7 linked regions of the Homo sapiens genome follow. The protein of the gene in region 4 interacts with the protein of the main gene of each other region in a pairwise test. Each region holds a gene or a part of one and is shown on either strand. Other genes may lie near its edges. The genes, in order: BAHD1, SEM1, SPATA22, DR1, LPIN1, JADE3 and FAM117B.

Region 1 (4,168 bases), on a different chromosome or scaffold from region 4:
GCTGAGGCGGGTGGATCACTTGAGGTCAGGAGTTCAAGACCACCCTGGCCAACATGCTGAAACCCCGTCTCTACTAAAAATACAAAAATGAGCCGGGTCTGGTAGCATACACCTGTAATTCCAGCTACTCAGGAGGCTGAGACAGGAGAATTGTTTGAACCCAGGAGACAGAGGTTGCAGATCGCGCCAGTGCACTCCAGTCTGGGCGACAGAGCAAGACTCTGTCTCCAGAATAAATAAATAAATAAATAAATAAATAAATAAATAAATAAATAAATAAATAAAAATAAAAATGATTGAATAACTGAGAGATGATTTCCAGAGAAATTGAAAGGACTTGAATTTATTTGGCCCAGAGGGAGGTAGACAAGGGGCAGTTAATATGTCTTTGCATGTTAAGATGACAGTTTAGAGCATGATGACCAGTTTTTAGTCTTCATTGCAGTCTGGGCTGGAGGCAGGGAATTTCACCTGAGACAAGAGGTATTGGGTAGATGCATGGTTGGGGGTTACCTTTTTCTGGATTTACTATAAAATCAGGACAACGTATCTTTGAAGCTCTCTCATTTATTCATTTATTTATTTAGCCCAGACTTCTTAGCATGTCACCCTTTTCTAGGATATAAAATGTTTGTTTCGGCCAGGTGCGGTGGCTCACGCCTATAATCCCAGCACTTTGGGAGGCAGGCGGATCACGAGGTCAGGAGATCGAGACCATCCTGGCCAACATGGTGAAACCCTGTCTCTACTAAAAATACAAAAATTAGCCGGGCATGGTGGTATGCGCCTGTAGTCCCAGCAACTCAGGAGGCTGAGGCAGGAGAATCGCTTGAACCTGGGAGGTGGAGGTTGCAGTGAGCCGAGATTGCGCCACTGCACTCTAGCCTGGATGACAGAGCAAGACTCCATCTCAAAAAAAAAAAAAAGTTTCTTTCAAAAAAAATTTTTTTAATTGTATTTACGTTCTAGCCCATAGATGCCATTTAATTGGAGTACATCTTCAGTTCCTCTGTGGTGGGAAAACTAATAATGTGTGGTAATGCCAATAATTAAAGCACAGAAAAATAAAACTGAACGTGCAAGTTATCTTGCATCTTGGTCTGTGATCCAGCAGCCATCCTGTGATGCCCTAAGTAGAGGCAGTGTGTTGCAGTGCAGGAAGTGTGGGCCTTGGTGTAGATGCCAGGATGGCTCACCTCTGTCCTCAATCCTAGCAACTTTTTATTTTTTAAGAGCCAGCTCTGTCACCGAGTCCAGAGTACAATGGCATGATCATGGTTCATTACAGCTTCCACCTACCGGGCTCAAGTGATCCTCCCACCTCAGCCTCCTAAGTAGCTGGGACTACAGGCACACACCACCATGCCCGACTAATTTTTTATTTTTGTAGAGACAGGGTCTCACTGTATTGCCCAGGCTGGTCTTTTAACTCCTGGCCTCCCACAGCACAGGAATTCTAGGTTACAGGTGTGAGCCACCACGCCCACCCAGCATCTCCTTTTAACTCTTTTTTTTTTTTTTTTTGAGACGGAGGTTCACTCTTGTTGCCCAGGCTGGAGTGCAGTGGTGTGATCTCGGCTCATCGCAACCTCTGCCTTCCAGGTAGCTGGGATTACAGGTATGTGCCACCACGCCCAGCTAATTTTTGTATTTTTAGTAGAGACGGCTAATTTTTGTATTTTCTCCATGTTGGTCAGGCTGGCCTTGAACTCCCAACCTCAGGTGATCCACCCACCTCGGCCTCCCAAAGTGCTGGGATTACAGGCGTGAGCCACCGCGCCCAGCCTTCCTTTTAACTCTTTGTACCTGTTTTTTTTCCTTGTTAGGATGAAATGGTAACAACTAGCTCATAAGGCTGTTGGGAAGATAAATGAGATAGTGAATGTAGTGTGCTTAGGACCTTGCCAGGTGCATAGTGAGTGCTTGACAAACATTGACCATCCTTTTACAGTAGTCACCTCTGCAGTGAATCAGAAATTTCCAACCCTGCACACTTAGGGTGTCTGGGGACTGATAATGCTAACTTTAGTTCTTTGCTCCTGATTTCACCTATCTGTGACATTCTTTGTCTTGATACAAGTGTCTGTAGTACTACATTCACTTGCTTAATGGTTTAGGGGCAGCCACAGCCAGTGGAATGCTTTCCAGAGGTAGCTGGGCAACTTGGGAGAGAGAAGGAGGAGGATGAGGCCAGGCATGGTGACTCATGCCTGTAATCCCAGCACTTTGGGATGCTGAAATGGGAGGATCACTTGAGGCTAGGACTTTGAGACCAGCCTGGGCAACATAGTGAGACCTTGTCTCTACAAAAATAAAAATAAATTTAAAAATTAGCCAGGCATGGTGGTGTAGGCCTGTAGTCCCAACTACTCGGGAGGCTGAGGTAGGAGGATTGTTTGAGCCCAGGAATTCGAGGCTACAGTGAGCTATAATTGTGCCACTGCCCTACTACTGCAGCCTGGGTGACAGAGCAAGACCCTGTCTCAAAAAAAAAAAAAAAAAAGAAAATGAAAATTGATGGTAATGAAGGAGGGTTGTGCCATGAAAATACAAGAGATTTCCTATTGTAACCTTGTTGCACTGTGGATTAAATTGAAGATGCACAGTGGACTCCTGGGGATGGAGGAGAGTTTGGAGGTCAGAGGGCTCTTGTCTTGAGCTCCAAGTGGTGCTCTAAGTCTAGGATAAAGATTTTACACAGGGTGGGGCAGGTGGACAGCCAGATCTTCATTTATTCTTACCAAGCTCTTATTAAGTCATGTGGGTGGGATTTACTGTTAAGGAAGGCAGAGCCTACCTGTCCCCATAGGGCTGGCATCCTATTGGAGGTGGCACTAGCCACTTAACTAGTTAAGTGAGTGATATTTGGGTAGGGTGCCCATAACTCTGATACGATCTGCCTTGCGATTCTGCTCCTGCTAGTGGAGTGTGGGGGAGGCCTGGTCTTGGATCTTGTTCCTCACAGCTGGTTCATTCAGGAGGTTAGTGCTCTGCTGAGGAGGCTGGAGGCAGAGCTCCATCTTGGCCTGGCTGGCTAGTTTCTGTTCAGGACTAGAGCTAGCACCTGTAGTCTTGGCAAGCCATTTTAGAAATCTAAGTTGTTGGTCCATGTAATGTCCTGGTGGTTGAACCAACACTCGTTCTTTGCCATTCCTGGGCAGGTGCTTGGAGAAGGCTGGTGAGCTGTTCATGTTTTTTGAAGAATGGTGCATCAGTAGCACAAGGTTTTCCCTGGTTCTGCTGAGGCCTGTTGCTGAGCTTTGGGGTGCCCTGTCCCCTGTTTTATTCCTGTTTTATTTCTCCCACATTGTTAGCTGCTCAGAGCAAATGGGTTTTGCTGCAGGTGTAGGTTTGCCTCTGGCTGATCCTGGGCAGTATGGCATCTGGATGGGAGGGTCTGAGGGAGCCTTAGCCCAGAGTTAAGGGGTGCCCCCCAACCCCTGCCTGGAGTCATCCTACATGGAGCTAATAGGGGCGAGTCTGGGAAAAGTTGCATTTGTTTCCTGCTTTAAGACTTTAGCTTTTGGGCCGGGCTCAGTGGCTCACATTTGTAATCCTAACACTTTGGGAATCCGAGGCAGGCAGATCCCTTGAGGTCAGGAGTTTGAGACCAGCCTGGCCAACATGGTGAAAACCCGTCTCTGCTAAAAATACAAAAATTAGCTGGGCGTGGTGGTGGGTGACTGTAATCCCAGCTACTCGGGATACTCCTGCTGAGGCAGGAGAATCACTTGAACCCAGGAGGCGGAGGTTGCAGTGAGCCGAGATCACGCCATTGCACTCCAGCCTGGGCAACAAGAGCATAAACTCCATCTCAAAAAAAAAAAAAAAAAAAAAAAAAAACTTTAGCTTTTGTTTGTCACCCTTTCCTGCATCCAAACATTTATGAAATGAATTTCTCAGAGTGCTGCCCACTCCCTACTGGGCTTTTGTTCCCACGGTACACGTGGCATAAAGTAGGCCCTCAGTAAGTGTCTAAATGCCTGGCTCATATGTACCCTCTGAGAAGCTGCCTTGGGGGGACCCCTCAGCCAAGCTCTGAGCAGTCCATTATAGCCCTTGTCACACTATCTTGTTCTGTCTTCCTGCTAGCCCATGCTCCAACTCTTAGTCTTTTGCATTTTTTTCCAGCACTTAGTCTGGTGCTTGTAGGGGAAAGAGAAAACAA
Region 2 (4,168 bases), on a different chromosome or scaffold from region 4:
AAACCACCTGCATTTGCAACTACTATTTCATAAGCAAATACAATATACATACACATTTATTTTTCACTTCAAAGCACCTACACCTTTTCCCTTCTTTTGAAAACCCCTTTCCTACGTTTCTTTTGAAAGCCCTGTTCAAAGGTTGCTACCTCGCACTGTACATAACTGGAAGTAATCTGTTTCTTTTGAACTGCTGTTGCACTTTACTATCAGTTGAAGGAAACCAAATTACATCTTACTCAGAAGCCCAACAGGTAAGAGAAACAAAGGCAATGTTGCTATGGTTTAATTGGTGGTAGGGAGAAAAGGGCTTTGAGTCCCACCCCAGGATAAACACTTCCAAAATACTAAAGCACTCTAGCTTGGTGTTAAAACCACTGATTCTTCTCTCCCTTAACTACTACTTACTAAGTTCAAAGACAAATATCTATAGAAGTCAAATTTGCTTCAAGACAGCCTCTAATTAACTGTGACCTTGGGTAAATTAAATTTTTCTGATCCCTAGGTATAAAACTTATACCTCAAAGAGCTATGAAGACTCAATGACACTGTGTATGTAAAGCACTTAGTACTGATAAATGGCAGCTAATACCATTCTCTCTGTACTTTTCAGTACCAGATTTATAGGAAACACTCAACAAATACATGTCAAATGAATAAATCCTTTATTACATACATGCTAATCACTGGAAAGGCAATTTGTGGGATGAGAGAGGTGAGTAGAGAAACATGTCCTAGAATATAAACAATACAATTTCCACCAAACATTACATGTACACCAGAGTACACAACCAGACAAAGGATTAAGGATATTTGGTAAATTTTAAATACTTATGAAGAAGAGTACACTCATCCCTCGGTATACTCGGGGTACTTGTTCCAGGACAGCCCAAGTATACCCAAATCTATGTATATTCAGGTCCCATGGTTAGCCAAGTGGTAGTCAGCCCTCTCTACAGGTGGGTTCCATATCCTGTGAATATCGTACTTCCTTTTCCCATTTAGTTGAAAAAAATCTGTGTATAAATGGACCCTCACACTTCAAACCATGTTGTTAAAGGGTCAACTGTATACAGTTTTTGAAACTTATTTTCCTCTCAATGTTTTCGCAGTTCATCACATCTTTCAATGAGTAATGTTTAACAAACAAGTAGTAACATTAAACACTACTTAAACCACAATTGCTTACTGCTTGCTCATTCCATAGAACCAATGAAATAGCTAACCAAATAGTTTTTCAAAGAGTTTTTCAGTGTTTAATATCCTGGTTCACACCTCTCACTATCCCTTCCCAAGCACCAGCATCTTGATTTGGGGGTTTTTCATTCCAATCTGTATATACCCCTAAATAATGTATGTTACTATTTTATGTGTCTTTCTATGAATAACCACATTATTAAGTACTTGTGGAAAAACATTTAATGGCAATTTTTTTAAATTTACAAGTTTCTAATACTGCAAAATAAATCAATTATCAAATAATTCACAAATTTAACAAGCTTAATTTTGAATATATTCAAAATTACTAAATACATGTCAGACACAGCTCAAATTCTAAATAAATATTAAACATCATCCAAAATCCAAACTCCTAAGTACATTAGAGGGGAGAGAAAAAAGGAGACTAATGTTTACTGAATACCAACTTTGTGCCAGACTCTGTTTACATATGTATCATTGTTCTGGACTAAATCTTTGTACCCTGGCCCCCCAAAACCCCCCCAAAAATTCTTATGTTGAAGCCCTCATCCTCAATATGATGGTATTCGGGAGGTAATCAGGATTGAATGAGGTCTTGCGGGTAGGGCTCCCATGATGGGATTAGTGCCTTAAGAGACACCAGAGAGCATGCACTCTTTCATTCTGCCACAAGAGAACACAGCACAAAGGCAGCCTTGTGCAAGGCAGGAAGAGTGGCCTCACCAAGAACTGTATCGACCTACACTTTAATCTTGGACTCCACAGCCTCCAGAATGGGTGAGAAAATAAATCTCTGATGTTTAAGCCACCCAGTCTATGCTATTTTGTTATGGTAGCCCAGGCCAACCATTACAATAATGTAATTCTTTCATGACTCTAATAAATATTATTAGCCATATATTACAGATAATGAAATTGAGGATTAAGATGGTAACAGCTCAGAGAAAAACATAATGGTTAATCTTACTTAAAAAAATCAATCCAAATCAAAATGATACAATTTTATTTTTCATTCATGAGGTCAGTAATGACTAACATGTTTACTATCTAGTGTAGCAAGCTTATGAGGGAAAAGGTGAACTGTAGATGAAAACATAAATTGGCATAACCCTTCTCAAAGGCAATTTGAGAGTATCTGTCAAAATTTAAGATATGCCAGGTCTAAGATGAGGTGTCTAAGCCCAAGTAGAGCAAGGAGGGCATTCCTGGAGAGGGGCAGCATGGTGTGGCTGGTGTGTCAGAGCCTGGACAGAACGAAGTCACCCACACTAGAGGATGGGAGGGTGGCCTGGCATAAAATGTGGAGCCCAAGTTGGGCAAGAAGGGCACCTGTTGGGGGCAGCAAAGATTGGTTAGGAAGGGGGATGACCAAATAGACAATACATTGAAGATAATGGAAGCCAGGTTTCTCACTATTGGAGAAGGGAATAACAAATGTAGAAAGGGAAAAAACTAGAATGAATCCAGTGGTGTTGAACTGCAATTGGAGACATCTGTGTGAACCCATGGTTTTATACATACACACACACACACACTCCTGTACATCCCTAGTTCCTTCCACTTAGAGGGTCTGGGAGCAGGAATATCCCAAATGCAATAAACATAAGCAAAGTGAAGACCCTGCATTCTAAATACCATTCTCCACTAAAAAGAAATCACATTGGAGCAACGGCTGATTTCACATATAAAATTAGTTTGGAATACACCTTGTGCCAGAATGCTAGGAAATGCACAAAGAATAATGGAGACATGGCAAAAGGACACAGAAGACAGCCTGAAGGAGTTCTGCATGTTCAAATATGGGACAATCTGAGAATCCAAATAATAGTTACAAATTATAACCTACTGAGTCAGAATCCACTAGTCCACACTGCTATACATTTTTTAAAAGATGAACAAGTTACAAGTTTGATGATCACTGGAATACTGTATTTACATAGTTTCAAAGTCCCTCCCCCAAAACTGCCTATTAGGAAGGGAAAATTAGTAACCTAACAATGGAAAGGCCTAACAAACACCACCTTAATAGTGATTGAAGTGAACATCCCCAGTAATGGAACAAATGAGAATAATGTTCCACCTAAAAAGATGTCATTAGAACAGAGCACCAGGACTACAATGTAGAACTTCTATCATGAGGAAATAGGCACAGGTGAGGAACATTCTACAAAATATCTGGCCTGTAGTCTTCTAAAGTGTGAAAATCATTAAAGTTAAAGACAAACAGGAAATGCTCTAGACTAAGGAAGACTAAAGAGACAGGACAAGATAATGTAATCCAGGACTCTATAGTAAGACATTATTGAGACAATGGGAGAAAGCTGAAAGTGATCTGTGGGTTAGATCATACAGGTTGAGTATCCCTTATTCAAAATGCTTGAGACCAGAAGTGTTTCAAATTTTGTATTTTTTTGAATTTTGAAATACTTGCATTATATATTTACAACTGGGCATCCCAAATCCCCTAATCTGAAATTTCATGTTGGTACTCAGAAAGTTTGAGATTCCGGAGGATTTCAGATTTGGGATGCTCAACCTATAGTAATGCATCAGTGCGTTAATTTCCTGATTTTGATGGTTGTCTTGTGACTATGTCCTTGTAGGAAATACACATTAAAATACTCAGGAGTGATGGCCATCAGGTTGGCAACTTATTCACAAATGGTTTAGAGAAAAATGTTTGTACTGTACTTTCAACTATTCTGTAAGTTTGAGATTATTTCAAAATAAAAATTATATTATAAAAAATGAGTCTGCCAATTCAATTTGGCAATTCTTCTCTAGGAGTTTATCTTATAGATTAGCACACACACAAAAAGATGTAAACATATTCATTATCTGTAACAGAAAAAAAACAACAAAACCCAAGCAACAAAAACCCTAAAGCTATAAGGTTATTCACTGCAGCATATTCCATTTTTTTTTTTTCTTTTAAAGGCCAGGTGCAGTGGCTCACCTGTAATCCCAG
Region 3 (4,168 bases), on a different chromosome or scaffold from region 4:
CATGTATTAATTCAAATTGTAATATCCAATACTGGCTGCCTGTCCAGATTACAATCTGTTTACCTAATTATCTGTCTAATGCTTGTCAGAATGGATTTTCTTCTAGCTCCTGCAGTTGGAACAATGTCTCTAAGAACCATCCCAAACCACTGAACAGGCCTAGTTTTAAGGCCTTGTTATGAAGAAACTGACAGACTGGTCCTGGGGAAACTAGCATGAATAATAAAATCAAAACTAATTTTTAAATAAAGATATTATTTCAATGTATTTATTAACAACTATATAAAAAGTTCCCCCTTTTAAAAAAATACGATATCTTTATATAATAAAAATGAGAATAGTATTAACTTCATATGGTTGTTGTAAGGATTATTGAAATAACATATCAAAGCACTTAACAGTGACTGATTTGGTGTTGTTTTCCCAGCACTTTGTTTCCAAAATCATTTCCTTCTATATTGCCATTTATCCAAGGCTACTAAAATCCAACCAAGAGAAATCCATGTTCTTTTTCTATCAATTTTTTCATACTATTTAAACATTAAGCTTTGGTCCTTATGGCAAGAACCCTCACCATCTTTTTGACCAGCTTCTTCATTTCTTGAGCCCCTACTATTGCAGATGCATATGCATCACAGCCTCCATTTTTCTTTCTTCTGCCATTCCGTTTACCTTGAAGCCGGCTGTCTTACAGGATAAGACTGAGCACTCTAATTGGTTCTCAAGTCCTAAATATAATCAATACTAAGATATGATTCCTGTCTATTGTCAATTAAATCATTAATAACCCATAAGCAAAATCATAAATTCATAGCAATGAATATTGGCAGAAATTTCATTGTCATATTAAGAATCTTTTGAAGCATAATCACTGTGAAATTTACATATTTTTTAAGTTTTACATGCATGTTCTCTTAAGCTCTTTCATAAAACATAATTAATACTGCCATAGTTGTTATTTATAGAAATTTCCTAAATGTAATTCTGTCTGAGAAACAACGAAGTGAAGGAGGAGGGAAGAATGAAGAGGAAGACAGGAAAATGAGAAGGAATAGAAGAAGAAAGAAATTTTAAGTAGACTCACCTCCAACCACCCTGGCTTCTTCCAGTATTTGATTGAATAGAGTTAAAGACAGAATCTTGACTTCTCAGAGGACGAGAAACTGAATGTGGTATTTGCCTTTCAAGGGAATATGTCTTGTTAAATATTAATAGTTTGCTTTCAAATTGAGAAATTAAGATATACGTAGAAGAACAACATCAGTTAGTAACAGACACACATCCAATGGTTTATATTTCTCCACATACCCGGTGTCCACTGTTTTCATTACAGGAGCCAACTCTGGATTCACAGCTTCCCAGGCCCAATCTCAAAAGATATAAGTAACATAGATAAAAGTAAGATAGGTAGTATTTTTCAAAATGATAAATTCATACTTATTTAATTTGGAGGGTTTAAAAACTTGAAGAAGAAAAAACTTGAATATATGGATTTCTTCAACAGTACTTGTTGGAAAACCTGTCACAGCCTGCTTTATTAATTTTTATAGATGTCTTTCTTATCCATTGTATTTTAAGCAAAGATAATTTAATCTGTATCTTTTCTACAATCAGTTCTAGTATAGTATCTTTAACTTTGTAACATGAATTTCATCTAATCCAATGTTTACTGAACTTTTAAAATCTCACCCACAGAAAGAAATACATCATAACTCAGAACATATACATGCATGATATATGTGTGAGACAGAGATAGAGAGGAGAAAAAAGAATATAAAACTTCATCAAATCTTATCCTTAATATGTGTGATACACACTGACACAGTCATGTGTCACTTAATGACAGGGATACAGTCTAAGAAATGCATTGTTAGGTGAGTTTGTTGTGCAAACAACATAGAGTGTACTTACACAAAGCTGGAGAGTACAGCTTGCTACACACCTAGGCTATATGTTACAGCCTATTGTTCCTAGGCTACAAACTTGTGCAACATGTTACTGTACTCAATACCACAGGCAATTGTAACATAATAGTATTTGTGTATCTAAACATATCTAAACATAGAAAAGGTACAGTAAAAATATAATATAAAAGATAAAAACCAATACACCTAAGAGGGCACTTACCATAAATGGAGCTTGCAGGACTGAAAGTTGCTTTGGGTGAGTTAGTGATTAAGTGGTGAGTGAATACGAAGGCCTAGGACATTACTGTATACACTACTGTACACTAAACACACCATACATTTAGGCTACATTTATAAAAAAAAATAAACTGTGCTATGACATTATGACAGCTACTATGTCACCAGGAGACAGAAATGTTTCAGCTCCATTATATTTGTAATGGCACCACCATCACACAGGTGGTGTGATTGACCAAAACATGGTTATGCAGTGCATGGCTGTATTTTCTATTCTACTCTATTCTCTTCTATTTCTTTTTTCAAAGATCGATTATACCTCAGACTGATTAATGGATCAAGACAAACATTTTAAAAAAACACTGATCCTCTCCCTCTCCCTCTCCCTCTCCCTCTCCCTCTCCCTCTGCCTCTCCCTCTGCCTCTCCCTCTCCCTCTCCCCACGGTCTCCCTCTCCCTCTGTTTCCACGGTCTCCCTCTCATGCCAAGCCGAAGCTGGACTGTACTGCTGCCATCTCGGCTCACTGCAACCTCCCTGCCTGATTCTCCTGCCTCACCCTGCCGAGTGCCTGCGATTGCAGGCGCGCGCCGCCACGCCTGACTGGTTTTCGTATTTTTTTGGTGGAGACGGGTTTCGCTGTGTTGGCCGGGCTGGTCTCCAGCTCCTAACCGCGAGTGATCCGCCAGCCTCGGCCTCCGGAGGTGCCGGGATTGCAGACGGTGTCTGGTTCACTCAGTGCTCAATGGTGCCCAGGCTGGAGTGCAGTGGCGTGATCTCGGCTCGCTACAACCTCCACCTCCCAGCCGCCTGCCTTGGCCTCCCAAAGTGCCCAGAGTGCAGCCTCTGCCCGGCCGCCACCCCGTCTGGGAAGTGAGGAGCGTCTCTGCCTGGCCGCCCATCGTCTGGGATGTGAGGAGCCCCTCTGCCTGGCTGCCCAGTCTGGAAAGTGAGGAGTGTCTCTGCCCGGCCGCCGTCCCATCTAGGAAGTGAGAAGCGCCTCTTCCCGGCCGCCATCCCATCTAGGAAGTGAGGAGCGTCTCTGCCGGGCCGCCCATCGTCTGAGATGTGGGGAGCACCTTTGCCCCGCCGCCCCATCTGGGATGTGAGGAGCGCCTCTGCCCGGCCGCGACCCCGTCTGGGAGGTGAGGAGCGTCTCTGCCCAGCCGCCCCATCTGAGAAGGGAGGAGACCCTCCGCCCGGCAACCGCCCCGTCTGAGAAGTGAGGAGCCCCTCCGCCCGGCAGCCGCCCCGTCTGAGAAGTGAGGAGCCCCTCCGCCCGGCAGCCACCCCGTCTGGGAAGTGAGGAGCGTCTCCGCCCGGCAGCCACCCCGTCTGGGAGGGGGGTGGGGGGGGGTCAGCCCCCCACCCGGCCAGCCGCCCGGTCTGGGAGGTGAGGGGCGCCTCTGCCCAGCCGCCCCTACTGGGAAGTGAGGAGCCCCTCTGCCCGGCCAGCCGCTCCGTCCGGGAGGGAGGTGGGGGGGTCAGCCCCCAGCCCGGCCAGCCGCCCCGTCCGGGAGGGAGGTGGGGGGTCAGCCCCTCCACCCGGCAGCCACCCCGTCTGGGAAGTGAGGAGCGTCTCCGCCCGGCAGCCACCCCGTCCGGGAGGGAGGTGGGGGGGTCAGCCCCCCGCCCGGCCAGCCGCCTCGTCCAGGAGGTGAGGGGCGCCTCTGCCCGGCCGCCCCTACTGGGAAGTGAGGAGCCCCTCTGCCCGGCCACCACCCCGTCTGGGAGGTGTGCCCAACAGCTCATTGAGAACGGGCCATGATGACAATGGCGGTTTTGTGGAATAGAAAGCGGGGAAAGGTGGGGAAAAGATTGAGAAATCGGATGGTTGCCGTGTCAGTGTAGAAAGAAGTAGACATGGGAGACTTTTCATTTTGTTCTGTACTAAGAAAAATTCTTCTGCCTTGGGATCCTGTTGATCTGTGACCTTACCCCCCAACCCTGTGCTCTCTCAAACATGTGCTGTGTCCACTCAGGGTTAAATGGATTAAGGGCAGTGCAAGATGTGCTTTGTTAAACA
Region 4 (4,168 bases):
GCATACATTATTAATTACCTATGAAACAGCTAAGGCTCCTTCACAATTTAATTTCATCTGTTTGCAGAAAAACCACACCAAGAAGGGAAAAAATGAACCTGTTCTTAAAAAGGTCTTACAATTTCCCATTAGACTCTGCCAAAACAATCCTTTTCTCCTTCTCTGTCTGTTCTTGGAATTGTTCTTTAAGTCCAACTCAGACCCTCCCCTTTATGCATAGCTAATTCCTAGTCATCATCTGAAATGCAAATCAGCTAGTCTTTCTTGACCTTTCCAAGCCATATTTTATGCTCTATTTAATATACCATAATTCCCTATGCATTCCCATATCCATCCACTTTGTTCTAGAATTATCTAAGTTTATATCCTTTTTTTCCACCACACTTGAGAATAGAGATTGTTTCCATATTCTTTGTTGCATTCCTAACATAAAGGCCCTCAGTATTTTCTGAATGAACATGCTACAGGAAAACAGTGATGCCCAGCATAACCAGTAACATTTAAGATTTTACCATGTACAATCCTCACTCTTCTGAATAATCTGTCATGACTTTATTATCCAAACATTTCTAGATATAAATTCTAATCAGGTCACTATTTCATTTTTTTAAAAAAAATCATTTGTTATCAATCAAATCCAAATTTCCTAGCCTAGAGTTCAAGGTCTTCCAAATTAGTGTCTACCCCAACCTCTCTATAGTCTTTTTTTGTAACATGTACTTTGTGCTTCAAAAAAGCCTAGAACACAAAATGTTTCCCAAATATACACCATACTTCCTCATCTTTGCTACCTTTACTCATGCTGACACTCATCCTATGTGAAATTTCCTGCCACTTACTGAAATTCTACCCTTCCTTCAAGTCAAACTGAAATACTATTTTCTCCTCCTGGCATCAGTCAGTGTATAATCAAGAGATAGATGTCACATGAGTTACTGGAATGGAAAAAATTTAATACGAAGAATTGTTAAACAAGTATAAAGTTGTTATTAGGGAGCTGAAAAGGCAGGAAGAGAACATGAAGATGTCATGAAAGTAGCAGCTACAGGAAGCAGCCACCAACCCTAAAACTGAGGGAATAAAGGAAAATGCTGGAATTTTTAAAATTTAGAAGCTTAAGAAACCACTTCATGGAACTGAAACTCAGGCCTCGGAAGAATGGGCATAGATAAGCTAGTACTAATATATCTGCGCTTGGAGGAGGGCCCCAAGGGTTGGGATCCACACTGCCAGAGTGGGGGGATGGGGTGCGGGTTCAGGCTGGTGGTGTATTAGAGAAAATGCAAACCGCGTTCAGTCTCTGCTACAGGAAAACTGATGCAACCAGGGTGAAGAAGTGTTGCTGGGTTGTTCAAAGGAACTGAAAGACAAGAGAAAGTAAGAGAAAACCCTTTCTCTTCCTCCATCCATGCAATCTCCCACGATAGCCCCATATGGCAACAGAGTCTAATGGAGAGTCAGCTAGCAAAGAAACATGTGGCTTGCAGAGTACTAGGTCCAGTCACAAAGCAGAGCATAGAAAGGTGGGTCTGGAGCTAAGATAATTGCTTACTAGTTGGCATACTCCTGTACCCCTAAAATTTGATGTAATGTTTCCATACTTGGGATTTCTTTCTCTTTCCTTCTTCCCTCTTTCTTTCTATTTTTGTAGAGAGAGGGTCTCACTATATTGCCCAGGTTGGTCTCAAACTCCTGGGCTCAAGTGATTCTCCCACCTGGGCCTCCTAAAGTGCTATGATTACAGGTGTGAGCCACTATGCCCAGCCAGAATCTCTTTCTCATAAGTGGTCAGCCTCATATTATAGTTATCTTCCTCATCCAAGTAGTCAGTCTCATAATGATATATTCTTCATTTTTTTTTATATCTATAGTACCACATATGTCTTACATACAGTAGGGACATGTTAATTGAATTCTGACTTGAAATTTGTTGACTGAAGGGCAGGAGTAGGGTGGTGCTGGTGTAGGTGGCAGTAGTGAAGTGGAAGAAGAAAAGCTATTACCTTGGGGGAAAGCTATCCAAGTAACCATAGTATCAGAGACTAATAAAGGAAGAGGTCTACATTAAATGTTATTTTTAAAAAAACAGATGAGTAAGAATTGAAAGGAAAAAAAATTACTGAATTTGGTGATTAAATGCCTCTGTGGTAGGACAGAAGTTAAATTTGAGGAATAAGTGATTGTACATTTTCAAAAAATGGTAGCACTGATCATTATTTATTTATTTATTTATTTATTTTAGAGATGGGGTCTTGCTATGTTGTCCAGACTAAAGTGCAGTGGCTATTTACAGGCATAGTTGTTATGCACTGCAACCTTGAACTCCTAGCCTCAAGGGATTGTCCTGCCTCCATCTCCCGAGTAACTGGGACTACAGGAAGGTGCCACCTTGCTTGGTGGGTAACACAGATCATTATAGCAAAAGATGAAAGGGTTTGGGGGATACAAGGAAATGCAGAAGACCCGTATATGGTTAAAGGCAAAGAGGAAGAAATAAGTAAGGAAAAGACTATAGATATTAGAAAAAACAAGGATAAGACAACTTTTACAGTAAACAAAAACTTCATTTTGCTTAGGAAATTAGAAACCATCCATTCTCCCTAATAATGACTGTCATCCATTTTTGTAAAGAAATAGGAAAAATAGTTGATTCTAACACAATAGCATATTTACTTTTACGGCAGGAATATCCAGAGTTCAAAACCAACTAACAGAGCTTCGCTAAAAACATTTTAAGGCCGGGCGCGGTGGCTCATGCCTGTAATCCCAGCACTGTGGGAGGCCAAGGTGGGCGGATCGCCTGAGGTTGGGAGTTTGAGACTAGCCTGGCCAGCAGGATGCAACCCTGTTTCTACTAAAAATACAAAAATTAGCCAGGCATGGTGGTGCATGCCTGTAATCCCAGCTACTTGGGAAGCTGAGGCAGGAGAATCGCTTGAACCCGGGAGGCGGAGGTTGCAATGAGCCGAGATAGCACCACTGCACTCCAGCCTGGGCAACAGAGCAAGACTCCATCTCAAAAAAAAAAAAAAAATTGTAAGAGTTCATAAGAAAATTGCAGGGCAAATCAAATACATAAATTCAACCAACATAAGCATACCTATATTTTGTGGTCTAATCAACTACAAGTTGGTATAATTTTGTGACATGGAAAAAATTCAAATAATTTCAAGTCTCTACAAAGGTTTTACTGCAAAGGTGCTTGATTTGGTAGTCTATTCAATGGTCTGCAAAGCTGTGTACTAGTTACATTTCAAATTTAATTGACTTTTAGCTACCACGGCCCTGTATCAGCGCTGATACTTTTCTCTGAACATAAAAACATTTCTATGCCTTTAAAACTAACTGTTGAGCTGGGCTCACTAGTGCACATCTATAGTCCCAGCTACTCATGAGGCTGAAGCAGGAGGATCCCTTGAGCCCAGGAGTTCTAGGCTGAAGTGTGCCTGATCGAGCCTGTCAATAGCCACTGTGCTCCAGCCTGGGCAACATGGTGAGATCCTGTCTCTTTAAAAAAAAAAAAAAGTTGATTGATAAAATTTTATTTGTATTCATTTCCACAAATTGAACATTTTTCAGTGATATTTACTGTAATATATTTTTTTCTCTCTTGCCCCCTACTCAATCCATCCCAAGTATTTTTCTTCTAAAATTGGGGTGTGAAAGACAGGTAAGCAGGCATGTATTTCCTAATTCACTTTTCTTTTGGAGGTTTTCATTATGTTTTAAGATTCTCACTCCCACATATTAAAATGACTCATTTATAATTTAAAGTTAACTTTAATCTTGATGTATTAAAGGTTCCCTCCTTCCAAATATTTGCTGCTAGCTTCAAATGAGGCTGTCATTGTGTTAATATTTAAAGTCTAAAAAATGAAACAAAATGAAAGTGATAAAAAAGATATATTTACTTATCCACTCTTTCATATTTAGAACTTCAGTGCTCTAGGGAAGAAGTACTAGGCAACTGCTATAATATTACCTCTCCGCTGGTCATCCTCACAATAGTAAAGAAATACTAGAGATCTTCATACATAAGTCAGGGTAAGAAACAAGGGAGACAAAAAAGAGGAATAAAAAAACAGATAATAGGGATAGAAAGGTGAAGACAGATATAGCAGGCAGTCAATTATTTCTTTATATTTTGCCCTGGCAAGGATAATACATA
Region 5 (4,168 bases), on a different chromosome or scaffold from region 4:
CTAGAGGTGGCTGGTGTTGGCAAAAATTGTGGGGTTAGGAAAGCTGTGGCAGGGGTTTTGAATTTTGGCAGTTCCAAGAAAGCAGCGTTTCTTGGCAATTTGTGAAGCCTGGAGATGGATTCTGCCAATTTTGGAATAAATGTGGAATTTTCTAATTTAATCGTGAGGCAAGAAACCATGTGACCTCTGTCACCTCATCCTGACAGTGTCCGCAGTGCTGTCCTTTCTGGAACTGTATGAAATTGCGGTCGTGAATGCTTTGGAGCGTCTGCTGTGTGCTGGAGTTCTACAGATGAGCTTAATTATGGGAACGCCCTCCTGTCCCTGGGCAAGGAGGGGGATGAGCAGGGTGGGGGTGTGCTGGAGGAGGAGACGCCTGCCACTTTGCCACCCTGGAAGCTCACTGCAAGAGCTGCAAAATTTCCCACCTGCCTAACACAGGCAGGGCTTTGGTGGCGGGACCCCAGGGCTGGCTGTTTTTGCTCTTTCATCACTTTTGTCAGGAAGTATTGAAAGACCTTTAAAAGGCCTCTGACTTGCAGGGCCTCTGACCTGCAGGCCTTTTAAAGCATCTCCAGCTTTTCTAGTGAGTTTTTGTATTTTGGACGGGAATGTCTCACGAACCCTGGCATGCCAAGAAAGTCCCCAATTTCCCAGCAGGTAGTGATGGATGCAGAGCTGTGCTCTTCTGTTTAAGAAGCTCCTCAAGGCACTCTGGCCAGGACAGTTTAACCACAGGGACGCTGGTGGACTCAGTCAATCCAGACCTGGCAGAGGGCAGCAGCTGCCTATAAGTGTGTGCCAGTTACAGCAGGGCGTGGGCTGCTGCCCAGGTGGCCTGACTTTCTGTCTGTGTTCCTTTCCCTGTATCACCCTGAGTCTGAGCCAGACTTCCTCTTTTGTCACAGGTAATTCATCACCCTTATCAACCGCCGTTAAGTATCAGTCCACAATGCTCTGAAAAGACTTCCTCTTTGCCGTAAGTGTAAATTACAGGAGGAAGCTAACACTATTTATAAATCAATTTCATTTTCATGCAAGTCTTATTAGTCATGATACCATTTTGGGCACTTCCTAGAAGCTTTTTGTGTTTTTAAATGCTTTGGATGAAAATCCTCATTTGTCTTGTAAACCTCCAAGGTGGATGTGATCTCGGCGAACACCAGTAACAGCGTGATGTTTGTGACTTTATCCAGTGCTGGGCGGACCACAGATAGAGTCCCCAGGTGCTGAGACACTGACTGTAGTGTGCTCAGAGGAGGGCGGCTAGGGCAGTGAGCAGGAAGCCCCAAAATCGTCCCTGTCAAGCCCAGCTGGGGAGCCGACAGTGCCTTCCCTAGAGGAAGGGTGCCAGGGGTGGTCATTTAGTTGTCCTGACATGATCCGTTGGCCCCACGAGCAGCAGCCAGGTCTGTATCTGAGAGCTGTAATTTCCTGCTGATAACAGGAACACAGATAAGGGGCACCCCATCCCAGAGTGATATTAGGTTGGCTTTTGAATCACCAGGCTCCTTGGATGTGCCTTAAGCCCACAGGTGCCCTTTAAGCACCTGCCGTGAGGGCAGATGTGACAGATCGTGTTTGCTCTCTGGGCAGTGAGTGGGTTTTGGGTAGCTTCTCTCCAGGAAATGATGAATCACTCGGAGCTGAGCAAGTGCCAGAGAAGTCTTCAATCACAGACTGAACCCAGGAGGGTGTTTCGGCCTTTCTAAGTCCTTAAGGGTTGTAGGGAAGGTTTTGAACAATGGCTTTTGACTTTACCTTCTGAGAGGCTCTGTCAGGGAGTGGTGATGCTGCGGGTGAGAGCAGTTTTGAAGGTGTCACATCCAGGGCCAACCCTGAGCCTTGCTTCTGTAGCCACCTCCTATGGGAGGTCATGACAATAATAAGATTTTGCATGTGTTGTCCAGGAGCAAAGACCTTTCCAAACTAGTCGTTGTGTTGACCACTGAGGATGACAGCCTGGTGGGCTCAGTCAGAGCCATTGTGTTAATACCCTGCTCCCACACACATAGCTGGTAAATGCCAGAAGTTAACACTCACAGCCAGGCCTTCCGACCCCCAATTTTGTGTCATTTCTGCTTTTCAGTCTTACCCTTAGGTGTCACAGCTGTTTATTTAAACTGTTTGCAGTGAATTTTGTTTGGGAGCATTGTCTTGTGAAATTTATGCTCTGGCAGAGAACAATTCCTGCTGTCTTCTTCATTTCTTCTAATTTTTTTTTTTTTTTTTGAGACGGAGTCACCCAGGCTGGAGTGCAGTGGCACGATCTCGGCTCACTGCAAGCTCTGCCTCCCGGGTTCACGCCATTCTCCTGCCTCAGCCTCCCAAGTAGCTGGGACTACAGGCGCCCGCCACCATGCCCGGCTAATCTTTTTTGTATTTTTAGCAGAGACGGGGTTTCACCATGTTAGCCAGGATGGTCTCGATCTCCTGACCTCGTGATCCGCCCGCCTCAGCCTCCCAAAGTGCTGGGATTACAGGCATGAGCCACCGCGCCCGGCCATTTCTTCTCATTTTTAAATTTTAGTGCTTTTCCCCCTCGTGCCCCGACTTGCCAAGCTACTTTGAGGGTGGTGGGTGCATCTTGCTGTTTTACACTCTGGAATGTCGTGATGGGACCAAAAATAAAAGTTTCTTGCTTGAGATGGGCCCTGCGATGGGGCAGGTACCGCGTCAGAAATGAGCAAGCCTCGTCCCTGTCCTCAAGGAGAGAAGACTCACTTGGTAGACAGATGTCTGTTCAGCCACTTGACAAATGACAGTAATATTGATCAAGCTACTGCCCTGGATGGCTGGGCTGGAGGGCTGAGGAGAAGGTTGAGGCTGAAAGATAGAGTTGTGTGGGCATGTTTATGAAGGGGTCATATACCTGGACAGCCGGGGGAGGAAATGGAGGAGGCAGGTGGAAATCCAGATTTGAGGGGTAATTATTGTTCAACTCCTGCAAGACACTTAGTTCTTTTTTTTTTTTTTTTGAGACAGAGTCTCGCTCTGTCGCCCAAGCTGGAGTTCAGTGGCGCCGTCTCGGCTCACTGCAAGCTGCGCCTCCTGGGTTCAAGCGACTCTCCTGCCTCAGCCTCCTGAGTAGCTGGGACTACAGGTGCGTGCCACTGTGCCTGGCTTATTTTTTGTATTTTTAGTAGAGACGTGGTTTCACCGTGTTAGCCAGGATGATCTCGGTCTCCTGACCTCATGATCTGCCCGCCTTGGCCTCCCAAAGTGCTGGGATCACAGGCATAAGCCACCACGCCTGGCCACTTAGTTCTTAAAGAAAGGAGAGTAGGAAGAAAAGTACAAGTGAGAAAGATGAACAAAAACGGGGATTGTAAGAGTACATTTATTGAGACAGTTTTGCATTTGCATTTGCTCGGCCAGTCTTATATATAATTAGATGTTGCTTACCATGACATCATTTCATTTCCAAGGAGCAAACCCACAATGTGAAAATGGACCCACTGTTATGTCCCAGATAACGTGCCTTAGGTAATGTTCTAGTTGAAGGAACTAGAAAGGGAATTAAAATCATTGTTATTTACTTGCATAATAAATGAGTGGAACAGCAGATTCCTGAATTGTCCATTAAGAGGCGTGGACTAAAATAATTCAAATCCCTTTATTTATTTATTTATTTTATATTTTTTTGAGATGGAGTCTCACTCTGTCGCCCAGGCTGGAGTACAATGACGTGATCTCAGCCCATTGCAACCTCTGCCTCCTGGGTTCAAGCAATTCTCCTGCCTCAGCCTCTCGAGTAGCTGGGATTACAGGCACTCACCATCATGCTAATTTTTGTATTTCTGTAGAGATGGGGTATTTTGTAGAGAGCCTGACCATGTTGGCCAGGCTGGTCTCGAATTCCTGACCTCAGGTGATCCGCCCTCCTTGGCCTACCAAAGTGCTGGCATTATAGGCGTGAGTGCCCGGCCCCTATATTTATTTTTAATAATCGATGCTGTTCGAGTTGAGTATGCTATTTATTATTAATGTCATAGGTAGAATTCTAAGTGGAATACGCTTGTAGATTTTTATGTTCTTTGGTGTATTATCTGTTTGGTTCTAACATAAAACAGTTTCTAACCCAGAGGTATCTGGAAAGATGGTATTCCAGTGGGATGTAATAACCTCAGAAAATTTGTATTATTTCAGAAGGTCAAGCTAGACGATG
Region 6 (3,829 bases), on a different chromosome or scaffold from region 4:
CTCAATTCTGAAAGGTCAGCAAGCATACTGAGGATTTTAAAGTCCTAGAAGGAAAATAACCCAGGATTGTGCATTCTTTGGCTTATCCTCTGAATTTAAAGTTGCTTCAACACAAGGACAAAGATTCATCTCCCATTGGAAATGTACACATTAGTATAAACTCAATAGCTTTTGTTGGCTATAACAGGGTATACCTGTAGTTTCAGTTCTCTAGCAGAGAGAGAGAGAAAGAGAGAGAGAGAGAGAGAGAACCAACTTCACCTTTTACCTATCTTCACTACTGATTTACCCAATGACCTTTGGCAAGTACATTTTTCAATCATGAAAATGTTTATAATGCCTAAAAGCCCCCCTTGACACCACATAACCCCATGACATCAACATACTCACAAGACTCCAAATAGAGATGCCTGACTGAAGCCTTTTCAATCTTGTCACTTTAGATAGGATCTATCTCTCTGGTGATGTTTTATGATGATCCTAAGGCCTTTATCTTAACAGTCTGATAAAATCATGATTTCTGGGTAAAGTTCAAGTATCCAGAGTTCTCCTGGGTCCCCGGTATTGACTCGAATGTTGAATGTGTGCTTCTAAACATTCAATTCCTCCTCTTCCTCCTCCCTCTCCCCACACTATCTGTTTTGTTCAGTGAATATAATTTTTTAAATATAAAAGGAACATGTGTAACCAATATGCCAAAATAAAAAACACACTGACAGTAGGTAGCAGTTTTCATAATTTAATGAAAAAGTATTGGTAAAAAGGGGACATTTGAAAAAGGACTGAGCTTATCTTGGAAAACTGGACTATATAAGACAAAATGAAAAAAATTAACAAAGAAGGTTAAGAGGTAATACTTCAAACAACAAAATGTAGCAAATACATTTTGGGGTAATTGAAATTTACAACTGAAGGCTCCTTCATTTACCTAGGAATATCCTGTAAAAATATTACAACTATATTTCCCTGACGAATGATATTTTAGTCAATACTCTCCCAATGGCATTACATATGGAATTTGGCTGAAGCACTGTTTTGATGTTTGCTTTTCCTCCCACTCAGAATTGAAAGGCATGAAGGGACAAAGGCTACCGCACTGGCCTCTGACATAAGGAATTTATAACACAGCTCCATCATAATTTCATTACCATGAAGGTATCAAATTAATATCTACTCCAGAGAACTCAAAGAAAAAGCACAGAAACCTAGTGCATAAATAGGGGAAATTCTCTTCCTCATTTTGATAGTTTTTTTCCCAAACAAAATACAGGACACCTACCACACATGCTATGGCATGTTTACACATGTACATAGGCACAAAAGAAATATTTTGAAGATGTAGCCAAAAGAGAGGCAAAACACATACATTTTCAGAAAAGGAGAAAGCAAAAAGCAAAGGAACCCATTAACAACGTTACAAGAACACAACTGGGGGAGAGGAAAACTGCTGAGTTTTCCATATTGACGGAGAGAGGGCCCCTGCCTTGACTGACTGGCACCTACTACAACTGGGCTGTTTCACCAGTAAGAAGCTTTAAAAATGGAAAATGGCCTCTTTTGTCTGAATATTCCCACTACACTTTCCAAAACTAGAAGAAAGAGAATATTAATTTAAGGCTAAGAAGAAAAGAGAGCTGAGAATTATAGTCTGCTTCACATTTAAAAAACGGCATCATTTCTCTCTTATTTAAATGAGAAGCAGACATGTTTTTATCCACCCCCCCCCCCGCAAATGTAATTATTCTCTTCCTACTAGAAATTAATCAAGGCTGATAGTTTGGGAACAGGGTATAAGCAACTTCTGAAAAATGGCTCCAGCCTTTTTGTTTGGGAAACTGCCTCAGATTCAAAGGTGACACAAAGCTAAATTATATCCATGTGTTAAACACATGCTTTCAAATTCTGTTTGACAATAAAAATCTGTTTCAAAATTAAAGCAGGTAAGAATACTTAACCTCTGTGCATTTTACTATATTTTAATTATACCTCAATAAAAATTTTATAAACATTAAAGCAGGTATACAAAAACTGTCAGCCAAACTTATTTTAGTCAAACTTATTTGAAAACAACACAAAAACCCTGACCTGGTACAAATACCCCAGAAATGGTCTCACTTTGGGAAAGGCTCTGGAATCCTTCACAAATGCCTAAACAGAGAATCAGAGCATTTTCCTTGGAAGTAGTACTTTTGTACTTTTGTAAACACTATCCACAAGTTAGCCTTTTATGCTTGTCAGTCAGGTGAAATAGTTATGAGTGTGTCCCCAACAAGCAAGTTTAGGAACAGGCACTGGACACTGATAAGCATGAGGAGTATTGACTCAGTAAGTTAAGATACTGTGAAAGAAACTCAACCTTGTGCAGAACAAAGGAAGACAGTAGTGAGTTTGACAGTATCTAAGATGGTGGTCTCCTGGTCTCTCCCCTGAAAAGGGTTTATAGATACCAGTGGAATTAGAAACTTCCTACAGACAGGAGCTCTGGGGAGTCACATGCTGTAGCTTCAAAAGATAAGTAGTTTTAGTGTCTGATAATCATGGTCTCTTGCAAATCAGTTAACAATGCAAGGACTCTTAATACATATACTTGTCAATGTGTTATATAACCGGAAAGCTGCCCCAAAATATTTACTGAGCAAATACCCTGGGCCCAGCTGTTCCCAATAGCCTCTGACAAACCAACCTCTGGACAACCTGCAATTACTGTAATGTGCTTGTAAAAACTAGACTTGAAACATTTTCAAAAACTGCAAGACAATTTACTATGGAAAAATGTTATCCTTTTCACTGCAATTCCTCTTAACATATGCTAAAATCCTTTTGGTGTATGGGTTTTCCCCAATATATGGGGCAAAGGCAAAGGTTGGGTCATCCTTGGAAGTTTCTAATCACCTTTGCATTGAACTGTGGGAAAGGGGATGTGTCTTGCTTTTACCATGGCAATCCCGTCTAGAGTCATGGGGAGGATTTTCCCTGTCTGAGCTATCTTTCCTTACCCTGACTTTTTCTTTATTCCCATCACTTTCTGCCTCTGAATCACTCAGCTCCAAATCTGGGCAATAGCCATCATTTTCCTGATATGGAGCTCTCCCTGCAGACCGCCTGAGAACCTGTCTACCCCAGAACTGCTCCTTGGGGCTCATATTCTTGGTTGGCTTCACATAGCACTGGAGGTCCTCTGTGTTCTTCACCCACCTATTGGTGGTCTCTTTAAAGGACCTACTAAAGTGTTCTACAGTGGATTTTCTAAAGCTGCCCTGACTGACCAAGTGGGGGCTGAACACAGGCTCCTGGTCACAGAACATCTCACTCGAGCTGTCTTTTTGGGTGACATTCCCAGACCAGCTGCCCTCCAGGCCATTGGATTTGGCAAACTTGGAGTTAGGCTGACTTTTCCCATTCCCAATGGAAGACTGTCCATGGAGGGCAGCCTGAAGGACCAGAGGCTTTCCCAGTGACTGCCCATGATAGCACTCCGAGGACGGGGTTCTCCAAGCAGGACTGGACTCCTTTGCTTCACTCCTAGAATGGCTGAGACTGGCCAGCAAACGGTTATTCTTGCTCTCTAGTGGGTATCTCGGATACGATTTTGTTCTCATTTCTAGTGACTCCTGAGGCACCTGCATGTTCCTTATACTGTGAACAGATGAGCTGCTGTCAGGAGAGTGGGGCTGCTGATCGGTTTCTGTGGAGCTGTTTCTGTGGTCTTCTGGGGTTGATTTGGGCATTTTTAACTTCAAGGTAATTCTTGGTGGTGGGTAAAACAGTGAGTTTTCAAGTGCATTTGTCAAAGGAAGCCCTGAGATAAAAAAGAAAGATTCGTTTTAAC
Region 7 (4,168 bases), on a different chromosome or scaffold from region 4:
AATTCCAATGAATATCTTATTTATTCTTTGACCGAGTTTTTGCATTTCTACATTATGTGTGAAATGAAAATGTCACTAATTAGCAGCACAGAAAATGGTAATCATAGCATGGAGCCATAACCATCATGGTTATAGTGAGTACTGCATTTCAGAAACACCACCATATATAGAAAAATAATAAATGTGGCCAGGTGCGGTGGCTCATGCCTGTAATCCCAGCACTTTGGGAGGCCAAGGCAGGCAGACTGCTTGAGGTCAGGAGTTAGAGACCAGCCTGGACAACATGATGAAACCCCATCTCTACTGAAAATACAAAAATTAGCTGGCCATGATGGCATACACCTGCAGTCCCAGGTACTTGGGAGGCTGAGGCACGAGAATTGCTTGAGCCTGGGAGGCAGAGCCTGCAGTGAGCCAAGATCGCACCACTGCACTCCAGCCTGGGCAACAGAGCGAGACTCCGTCTCACACACACACATGCACACCCCAAAAAAAAAAAAAAAAGAATAAATGTGAATTTGTTGTATTGTTACAATTTTTAAATCTGATGTTAATAGACAGGTATGAATTCTCCTAAAAAAAGACAAACATACATAATCAGGTAAGTGATATATAAATATCCCTATTGAAATCTTTATTAAATCAACACAATAATTGTTTTTGTTATTTCAGAAGCCAAAAAGAAAAAAGAAATCAATGGAAAACGACAAATCCTTGCTGCCCATAATATCAAGGAAATAGCCAACAAAAGGATCATATTTCCACACCCACTATCTTAGAACCATTTTTCTGACCTCCTTAAGTTGATCTGTACTGCCCCAAGATGCTGAGCGCTTGTGAGACCCTTTCTTCTTTTCAGAGTATTCTTCAGCCCATGCACTCTCTGTCTGTAATGAAAAAAGAGGGGAGGTGTATTTAACAAAAATCATTTCACAACAATGTCTACCATATTTTTCTATTATAAAACATATTTCCATTACAAAAAAATTAGACATTAAAAATAATTAACACAAATTACTCAAAATTCTCCTGGCACCAGTTACTTAACTGGTATTAATTACAATTAATATTTTGGCATACTTCATTTTTATTGCTAATAAAAAATTAGTATTTTTACATAATTATAATTATACTACAAATAAAGCATTTATGGAACAAAGTTAACTATATATAATAACTAGAGTTACCATAGTTAACTAACATATAATAGCTAATAATGTCAGTTATTATTAGCACGCACCAGGCACACTAATAATAGCTAACATTCTTGTGCTCTTATGTGCTAGGCACTGTGCTTTCATATGCTTTATCTGACTTAACACATGTAAGTTGCCTAAGGTGTTACAAGCGGCAAAGCCAAGAAATAAACCTGAGACTCCAGAGCTTGTAATATTAACTTCTATATTATGTCTAGTCTTGCCATAAGTATCTTCAGAGAACAGCTTCAAAAATGTTAAACCTGGCTGGGCGCGGTGGCTCACGCCTGTAATCCCAGCACTTTGGGAGGCCAAGGCGGACAGGCCACGAGGTCAGGAGTTCGAGAACAGCCTGACCAGCATGGTGAAACCTTGTCTCTACTAAAAATACAAAAATTAGCGTGTGCTTGTAATCCCAGCTACTCAGGAGGCTGAGGCAGGAGAATCGCTTGAACCCGGGAGGTGGAGATTGCAGTGAGCCGAGATCGTGCCACCGTACTCCAGCCTGGATGACAGAGGGAGGCTCCGTCTCAAAAAAAAAAAAAAAAAAAAAAAAGTTAAACCTTAAGTAGTTATACCAAACCCAGAATTTAAAAAGTGTATTGGGAAAGAAAATACAAATGAGTTCCTAGCACATGAAACTATGCTCAACCTCACTGATAAGAAGGGAAATGAAAGTTAAAGCTTCAACAAGATTGAGCAATTTGCTAATATAAACTCTCCTATATTGTTAGTGGGAGCATACAGCCTTTATGGGGGGATATTCAGCACCTGCTGTCAAAGTTATAAATGCGCAAACTGACACAGCAACCCCTTATTTAACAATTTATCCTGCACAGATACCAAATGCACATCTTTATGTACAAAATGACTTGCCTATTATTCCCTGTAGCACTGTTCTTACAAGTAAGACTGAAACAATGTAAGTAAGTTAGATTTATTTAGGTTTGGCTAAATAAATTATGGTATACCTTTATAACAGAGTACTGTGCAGCTATAAAAATGAATAAGGAAATTCACAATATACAGACATGAAATAATCTCCATGATATACTGTTAAGTGAAAAACCTCAAGGCTCAGTACCGTGTGTATAGCAACTGCCTTTATATGGGACTGCTAAAAAGAATGCATGTGTGTGTAAATTATATCTGGAAGAAAATAGATGGTAACAAAGAAAATTGGTACCAGTGGCTGTCTCTGGGGAAAAAGACCCTTAGTGTATACCCTTCTGTACCTTCTGAATTTTGTACATGAAATAATAAAAAATACCAAAAAATACTGTGCAGTTTGAATATCTTTTGCACTATTAACGTACCAATTACTAATTATAAAATGGTCTAGTTTCAAATGGGGAAGGAAAAGTTTTCAAAAATGAAGACACTGTGATTCTAATTAGTCATGTCCCAGGTCTGGATCTTCTCCTTATAGCCAAAAGGACTCCATTCTGACAAGGATCCTTAAATACACTGAATCAAAAGGAAGGGCTACAATTTGGTCAACTTCCCACCACTCTATGCCCTATTTCACCCTAAACTCCAGTTTCACTTTGAGGTTACCAACTGATGTCACACATCCCAGAGGTGACCCCTACTGTACTTATAATTTCTCATATTAGGATCCACAGGCTCTTTAAGTCCATTGTTAAAATACCTGTCACAAAGATCAACATGTAAATAGGACCATATAGCATAAAGTATCAAAATCAAAAACCAAAATCAAAATAATAAACTTAATACTATAAAATTTAAAACCTTAACAAATGAATTTTTTTTTTTTAATTTTTAAGTTCAAGGGTACATGTACTGGTTACATAGGTAAACAGGTAAACTCGTGTCATGGGGGTTTGTTGTACAGATTATTTCGTCACCCAGGTACTAAGCCTAGTACTCATTAGCTATTTTCCCTGATCCTCTCCCTCCTCCCACCCTCCACCCTCTAGAAGGCCCCAGAATCTGCTCTTCCCCTCTATGTGTCCATGTGTTCTCATTATTTAGCTCCCATTTATAAGTGAGAACATGCAGTATTTGGTTTTCTGTTCCTGTGTTAGTTTGCTAAGGATAATGGCCTCTAGCTCCATCCATGTTCCTGCAAAGGACATGATCTTGTTTATTTTTATGGCTGCACAGTAGTCCATGGTGTATATGCACCACATTTTCCTTATCCAGGCTACTGTTGATGGGCATTTAGGTTGATTCCATGTCGTTGCTATTGTGAATAAGCAGCATAGTATGCGTGGTTCAGAATCACATATGTTGGTGTTAAACAAACATGTTTAAGTTTCAGATCAGTTAAATAACATTTTTTGGGCCAGGCGTGGTGGCTCATGCCTGTAATCCCAGGAGGCCGAGGCGGGTGGATCACGAAGTCAGAAGTTTGAGACCAGCCTGGCCAACATAGTGAAACCCCGTCTCTACAAAAAGTACAAAAAATTAGCCGGGCGTGGTGGCAGGCACGTGTAATCCCAGCTGCTTGGGAGGCTGAGGCAGGAGAATCGCTTGAACTTGGGAGGTGGAGGTTGCAGTGAGCTGAGATCTCGCCACTGCACTCTAGCCCGGGCGACAGTGAGAGGCTCCATCTCCAAAAAAAAAAAAAAAAAAAATTGTATCTTTACAAGATGCTTCTCTTATATGAATTTTTAAATTCCTCATTTATAAGAATAATGTCAGGCCAGGCACAGCGGCTCATGCTTATGCATGGCTAATCCCAGTGCTTTGAGAGGCCAAGGCTACAGGATCACTTGAGCCCAGGAATTCAAGACCAGCCTGGGGAACACAGGGAGACCTCATCTCTAAAAAAATGTAAAAAATTAGCTGGGCCTCATGACTCACGACTGTAGTCCTAGCTACTTGAAAGGCTGAGGTGGGAGGATTGCTTGAGCCTGGGAGGTTGAGGCTGCACTGAGCTGTGCTTGCTCCACTGCACTCCAGCCTGGATGTCAGAGCGAGACCCTGTCTCAAAAAAAAAGGAATAA

What was found.
Region 1: the proteins of DR1 (region 4) and BAHD1 interact in binary tests that used the Homo sapiens proteins (3 or more experiments, as listed by UniProt).
Region 2: the proteins of DR1 (region 4) and SEM1 interact in binary tests that used the Homo sapiens proteins (3 or more experiments, as listed by UniProt).
Region 3: the proteins of DR1 (region 4) and SPATA22 interact in binary tests that used the Homo sapiens proteins (3 or more experiments, as listed by UniProt).
Region 5: the proteins of DR1 (region 4) and LPIN1 interact in binary tests that used the Homo sapiens proteins (3 or more experiments, as listed by UniProt).
Region 6: the proteins of DR1 (region 4) and JADE3 interact in binary tests that used the Homo sapiens proteins (3 or more experiments, as listed by UniProt).
Region 7: the proteins of DR1 (region 4) and FAM117B interact in binary tests that used the Homo sapiens proteins (3 or more experiments, as listed by UniProt).

Annotation. Positions count from the first base shown.
Region 1 is NC_000015.10:40,447,330-40,451,497, forward strand, and holds part of BAHD1 (bromo adjacent homology domain-containing 1 protein), read left to right. Parts: intron 1-4,168.
Region 2 is NC_000007.14:96,699,533-96,703,700, forward strand, and holds part of SEM1 (26S proteasome complex subunit SEM1), read right to left. Parts: intron 1-4,168. UniProt on the Homo sapiens protein: Component of the 26S proteasome, a multiprotein complex involved in the ATP-dependent degradation of ubiquitinated proteins.
Region 3 is NC_000017.11:3,461,399-3,465,566, forward strand, and holds part of SPATA22 (spermatogenesis-associated protein 22), read right to left. Parts: intron 1,370-4,168; coding exon 1,309-1,369; intron 1,181-1,308; coding exon 1,085-1,180; intron 1-1,084. UniProt on the Homo sapiens protein: Meiosis-specific protein required for homologous recombination in meiosis I.
Region 4 is NC_000001.11:93,355,590-93,359,757, reverse strand, and holds part of DR1 (protein Dr1), read right to left. Parts: intron 1-4,168. UniProt on the Homo sapiens protein: The association of the DR1/DRAP1 heterodimer with TBP results in a functional repression of both activated and basal transcription of class II genes.
Region 5 is NC_000002.12:11,752,762-11,756,929, forward strand, and holds part of LPIN1 (phosphatidate phosphatase LPIN1), read left to right. Parts: intron 1-2,985; exon of another isoform or gene 2,986-3,103; intron 3,104-4,168. UniProt on the Homo sapiens protein: Acts as a magnesium-dependent phosphatidate phosphatase enzyme which catalyzes the conversion of phosphatidic acid to diacylglycerol during triglyceride, phosphatidylcholine and phosphatidylethanolamine biosynthesis and therefore controls the metabolism of fatty acids at different levels.
Region 6 is NC_000023.11:47,058,137-47,061,965, reverse strand, and holds the end of JADE3 (protein Jade-3), read right to left. Parts: intron 3,800-3,829; coding exon 2,889-3,799; 3' UTR 724-2,888; downstream 1-723. UniProt on the Homo sapiens protein: Scaffold subunit of some HBO1 complexes, which have a histone H4 acetyltransferase activity.
Region 7 is NC_000002.12:202,721,636-202,725,803, reverse strand, and holds part of FAM117B (protein FAM117B), read right to left. Parts: intron 888-4,168; coding exon 795-887; intron 1-794.